Regions from separate parts of the Homo sapiens genome. Here region 1 is linked to region 2. Evidence: fine-mapped expression QTL. A gene starts in region 2. The other region holds a variant in brackets. All regions are shown on one strand. Distances are between the middles of the regions.

Region 1 (2,916 bases), 37 kb after region 2:
GGCCGAGGCAGGCTGATCGCTTGAGGCCAGGAGTTCAAGACCAGCCTGGCCAACATGTTGAAACCCTGTCTCTACAAAAAATGCAAAACCTAGCTGGTGTGGTGGTGCATGCCTGTAATTCCAGCTACTTGGGAGGCTGAGACACGAGAATTGCTTGAACCCAGGAGGCAGAGGTTGCAGCAAGCCAAGATCACGCCACTGTACTCCAGCCTGCGTGACAGAGCAAGACTCTGTCTTAAAATAAAATAAAATAAAATAAAATAAAATAAATACAAGAGGCCTGTATTTTTGCCCCCTCCACTATATGAGGACACGTAGACAGCACCATCTCTGAGGAATGGGCCCTCACCGGACGCCTAATCTGCTGGTGCCTTGATCTTGGACTTCCCAGCCTCCAGAGCTGTGAGCAATCAATATCCATTGTTTATAAATTACCTAGTCTATGGTATTTTGTTATAGCAGACCAAACAGACTAGGCAGTCACTTTAGCCCCAGACATACCAAGTTAGGGCTTAACTGTGGGGACACTCTCTCTTCACAAGTAATGCTGTTTCTTCAGAGCTCTTGGGGGTCGTGTTTACCTAGACTTTTACAGCTTTCTTCAGTTTTCAGTTTTGTAATCTGATGTGTCGCAGGTGGGATGAGTTTTCTTCTATTTTGGAAACTGGACAGATGAATTCTCATTCAGATCACTCACTAAATAGAGTCCAGGTGAAAGCAACTTCTAGGGCCAGGCTTCTGGAAATTAGTAGCATCTTAAGGTGTCAAGGTAGGTAACATCTTAGGGTAAAACAGAAATGTCACTCAATAAGAGCTATCTACTGCTCTCTATTCTATCTGAGAGGAGTCTTAGCTATTGTAACGTCTTTCAGGGAAGTGCCCTGTGGGCAAAAATAACGCTTCGTATCCAGATTTGGTACAGTTTACAAAATTTTGAAATTTTTGGTACTTTTTTGGTCCCTTTTTGCATTCTGTATTTCTTGAATTTTTTTTCAATTTTTTTTGAGATGGAGTTTCCTTCTTGTTGTCCAGGCTGGAGTCCAGTGGCGTGATCTCGGCTCACTGCAACCTCCGCCTCCCAGGTTCAAGGGATTCTCCTGCCTCAGCCTCCCAAGTAGCTGGGATTACAGGC[A/G]TCTGCCATCACTCCCGGCTAATTTTTGTATTTTTAGTAGAGATGGTGTTTCACCATGTTGGCTACACTGGTCTCGAACTCTTGACCTCGGGTGATCCACCCCCCTCAGCCTCCCAAAGTGCGTGAGCCACTGTGCCTAGCTTTTGAATTATTACATTAAGAAAGTATCATTGTTATAAAAGCAATAAGGTTATTTTAAAATAGTATTCAATAGGCCAAAAGGGAATATGGAAGTAACAGCCTTGAACTCGTGGCCTCAAAGGATTCTCCTGCCTCAGTCACACTTTAGAGTTTCCCTTTACATTCAGGATGAATCCTGAAAAGAGGGGTAATGCTGCCTTAGACACTGGAGGGACTAAACTCTGACAAAAGAACATTACCAAGAACTATCTAGCCTTGTGAAATTTAGACAATTTCTGCAAATATGGATCTTTCATACTCCAGTGGCCCAATAATGGAGGTCTTCTTTGCCTGTGTATTACTTTTTTTTTTTTTTTTTTGAGACAGAGTCTCTCTCTGTCACCCAGGCTGGAGTGCAGTGGCATGATCTCAGCTCACTGCAACCTCTGCTTCCCGGGTTCAAGCAATTCTCCTGCCTCAGCCTCCTGAGTAGCTGGGATTACAGGCACCCGTCACCACGCCCGGCTCATTTTTGTATTTTGGGTAGAGACAGGGTTACATCATATTGGCTAGGCTGATCTCAAACTCCTGACCTTGTGATCCGCCCACCTTGGCCTCCCAAAGTGCTGGGATTACAGGCATGAGCCACCACAGCTGGCTCTTTTTTTTTTTTTTTGAGACAGAGTCTTGCTCTGTCACTCAGGCCAGAGTACAGCGGTGCAATCTCAGCTCACTGCAGCCTGTGCCTGTCGGGTTCAAGCGATTCCCATGCCTCATCCTCCCGAATAGCTGGGATTACAAGCGTGCACCACCACACTCTGCCATGTTGGCCAGGCTGGTTGGTGTTGAACTCCCAACCTCAAGTGATCTACCTGCCTCCGCCTCTCAAAGTGCTGGGATTACAGGCGTGAGCCACTGTGCCCAGCTTCAGATAACCTTTCCATTAAAAAAAAAAAAAAAAAAAAGGCAGGATGTAGTGGCTCGTCCCGGTAATCCCAGTACTTTGGGAGGCCATGGCCAGCAGATTGCTTGAGCCCAGGAGTTCAGGACCAGCCTGGGCAACATAGCAAGACCCCAACTTTACAAAACAGTTTTAAAAATTAGCTATGTGTGGTGGCCCACGCCTGTAGACCCAGACACTAGGGAGACTGAGGTGGGAGGTTCACTTGAACCCATGAGTTAAAGATTACAGTGAGCCGTGATCAAGCCACTACTCTCCAGCATGGGCAACACAGTGGGACTCTCTCTTTAAAAAAAAAAAGAGACTGGGTGCAGTGGCTGACACCTGTAATCCCAGCACTTTGGGAGGCCAAGGTGGGCAGATCACTTGAGCTCAGGGGTTTGAGACCAGCCTGGGCAACATGGTGAAACCCCATCTCTACTAAAAATACAAAAATTAGCTGGGCATGATGGTGTGCCCCTGTGGTCCCAGCTACTTGGGAGGCTAAGGTAGGAGGACCATTTGAACCCAGGAGGTTGAGGTTGCAGTGAGCCATGATGGCACCAGAGTAAGACCCTGTCTCACAAAAAAGGTAGGGGGATCTGTATTAGTTAGCTTTTGCTGTATAACAATCCACCCTGAGGCTTATTGTCTTAAACAGGACCCCTTGTTTAGCCCACAATCCTGTAGTTTGACTGGGCTAGGGCAGCGTGGCTGATCTATG
Region 2 (2,916 bases):
AAATATTCATGAAGCACTTGCAAAATGTTTAGCACTAGCTATGGGATTGTGGATAAAATGACAAAACAAATGAACATTACAATATAGCAGGGGGACATAAGTTAAACAGATATAGTATGCTTTGGAAACATGATCAGGGAAGTAGACTGAAGGTCCGAGAAGTCTACCTTGAGCAAGTGAGGTCTGAGTTGGGACTTGAGGGATGAATGTGAGTTAGCCATTGAAGGAGGAAGGGAGGCTTTACTGTGCCCCAATCTTACCTTACACTTTCCCTCTCCAGGGCTTTGATGGCTCAATTCCCTCCCCACTAGAATGCTCTTTATTTCTGCTTATTGAAATGCTATAAGCTTTTCAGGCCCAGCTAAAATGTCTGCTCCTCAATAAAGCCTTCCCTGAACGCTCCAGCTGAAGGCAGTTTCCCATTTCTACGCACCCCCCCGCCACCCTGGCACTTAGTTTTCATTTTCCTTGGACACTTCTCACTTTCTGCTGTATTTTTTGGTTATTTATAAACACAGCTTATCTTTTTCTACTAAATCTTAAACTTTTTAAGAACAGAGTCTATTTCTCATTCATCTTTGAGTTCCCAAAGGCTAGCACATTCCTTAGATTTAGAAGTCCTGGAACAAATGTTTGTAGCATAAATTAATGCCTATTTGACATCCCTTTTCAAATATGTTGTAATTCAAATGAAGCTATTGTTGCAAGCTGTGCCTTTGAGGCTCAACTTACTCTTTGGTTAAACCAGAATGCCACAGTCATGGTCCCCATGACTGATTAGTGTTCACCACAATAACTGCAACAACCCTAACAAACAGGCCACTGTTCTTGACTGACAGGCGTTTGGCAACAACTACCAATTCTCCAGTGAACACTGAAATGAATTGAGGAAGAACTGTCTGAATTGAGAGTCCCTAGGCCAGTAGGCTCTATTTATTCTTTGCAGTTGGGCTGCAAGAGCTGGTCACCCAGGCTTTGGCCTGATGTGAGACATGACTGCACTGGGTGGCAGTGAGGCTATGAGACTTTCCAGGGTGACAGAAACATTAATGATTGTAACAAAATAATCAAAGATCAGTATCAGTGGAAAGCACTGTAATTTGAGGCAGTGTGATAACAAGGGAAAGGGAGCTTTGAACTTAGACCTGGGTATGGATCCTAACAGGCTATGTTATCTCACCCACGTCCCTTCTTTAAGTCTCAAGATTTAATTAAAAAAAAAATCTGTAAAACAGTTGTGAAAATCAAAGATACTGTCTTTACACAATGCTCATGTTCTATTAAAATGTGTTTATTCATCTATCTTACCCAACATATTTTCTTCTCTGAGGGCAGGGACTTATTTATGCCCCATTTCTGCAAAATCAAGCAAAGTGCTTAGCACACAGTAGTAGACACTGACAAGTACTTTTTTTTTTTTTTTGAGACAGGGTCTCGCTCTGTTATCCAGGCTGGAGTGCAGCAGTACAATCATGACTCACTGCAACTTCCACTTCCAGGGCTGAGGTGATTCTGCTACCTCAGCCTCCCGTGTAGCTGGGACCACAGGCATGCATCACCATGCCTGGGTAATTTTTTTATTTTTTGTAGAGACAGACTTTCACTATATTGTGCAGGCCAGTCTTGAACTCTTGAGCTCAAGCGATCCGCCCACCTCAGTGCCCAAAGTGCTGGGGCTACAGGCGTGAGCCACCAGGCCAACCACAGATACTTTTAAAACAAATTGTAGCAGGAGGAGCCTCAGACAAAACTCCTCAGACACCGAGTTAAAGAAGGAAGGGGTTTGTTCGGCTGGGAGCATCGGCAAGCCTCCTGTCTCAAGAGCCGAGCTCTTCAGGTGCTCAACTTGTGCTTTTAAGGGCTCACAACTCTAAGGGGATCCACATGAGAGGGTCATGATCGATTGAGCAAGCTAGGGGGTACATGACAGGGGCTGCAAGCACCAGTGGTCAGAGCGAAACAGAACAGAACTGGAGGTTTCACAATGTCTTTCCATACAATATATGGAATCTATAGATAACATCAGTTGCTAAGTCACGGGTCGAATTTTAACTACCAGGCTTAGGTCAGGCAGGCCTAGGCCTGGTTTCAGGTGTGGTTCCTAGGCACTGGGCTACCTGCCTTTAGTTTCTCTTCTCTTTCCTTTTCTGAGTATAGAACAATATGAGAGGGTCTCTCTCTTCCCTCAAAATGAACAACAATAATAGCTATCATTTATGGAATACTTACTCATGTCAGATATTGTTGTAAATAGTAATTCACTTAATCCTCCAACAACCTTAGAAAGGAACTAACTTAATTTCACAGAAAACTGAACTTTTTTTTTTTTTGAGACGGGGTCTCACTCTGTCACCAGGCTGGAGTGCAGTGGCGCGACCTCAACTCACTGCAACCTCCTCCTCCCGTGTTCAAGCGATTCCCCTGCCTCAGCCTCCCGAGTAGCTGGGACTACAGGTGCGTGCCACCACGCCCAGTTAATTTTTGTATTTTTAGTAGAGACGGGGTTTCACCATGTTGGCCAGGATGATCTCAATCTCTTGACGTGATCTGCCTGCCTCGGCCTCCCAAAGTGCTGGGATTACAGGCATGAGCCACCGCACCTGGTCAACTTTTTGATTTTAGAATATAAAAGTCTTGATACAACTAATTTTGAAATAGCCTGGTGAGACTCACTCTATTCAATTAAAAAAATGTAAAATATCTTTTACAATATGAAAAAGAAAAAATATGGTGGAGGGAGAAAGAAGAAATAAATTTAAGAGTGGGAGAAAAAAAGTAGGAAGAATAGAGACAGACGTGGAAAATGAAGAAAAAGTAAATTTTGAGTGGAGTTAAAAGAAAACTGTTTAATCATAAGATACTGTGTGCATTATCACTGCCCTTTAGAAATAGTAATTTGAGGCCGGGCACGGTGGC

The links.
Region 1: its variant is fine-mapped to the expression of TMEM167B-DT in fibroblasts (GTEx, PIP 0.98).

Annotation. Positions count from the first base shown.
Region 1 is chr1:109,120,160-109,123,075 of GRCh38, forward strand. The region is part of intron 1 of ELAPOR1 (endosome-lysosome associated apoptosis and autophagy regulator 1); the gene reads left to right. Among named protein-coding and RNA genes, the nearest start is that of ELAPOR1, 7.5 kb to the left of the region's middle. The variant A/G (reference allele first, on the strand shown) is at 1,133.
Region 2 is chr1:109,083,297-109,086,212 of GRCh38, forward strand. TMEM167B-DT (TMEM167B divergent transcript) reads right to left here and starts at 1,454. Exons shown (of 2, transcript XR_947688.3): 1 at 1-1,454.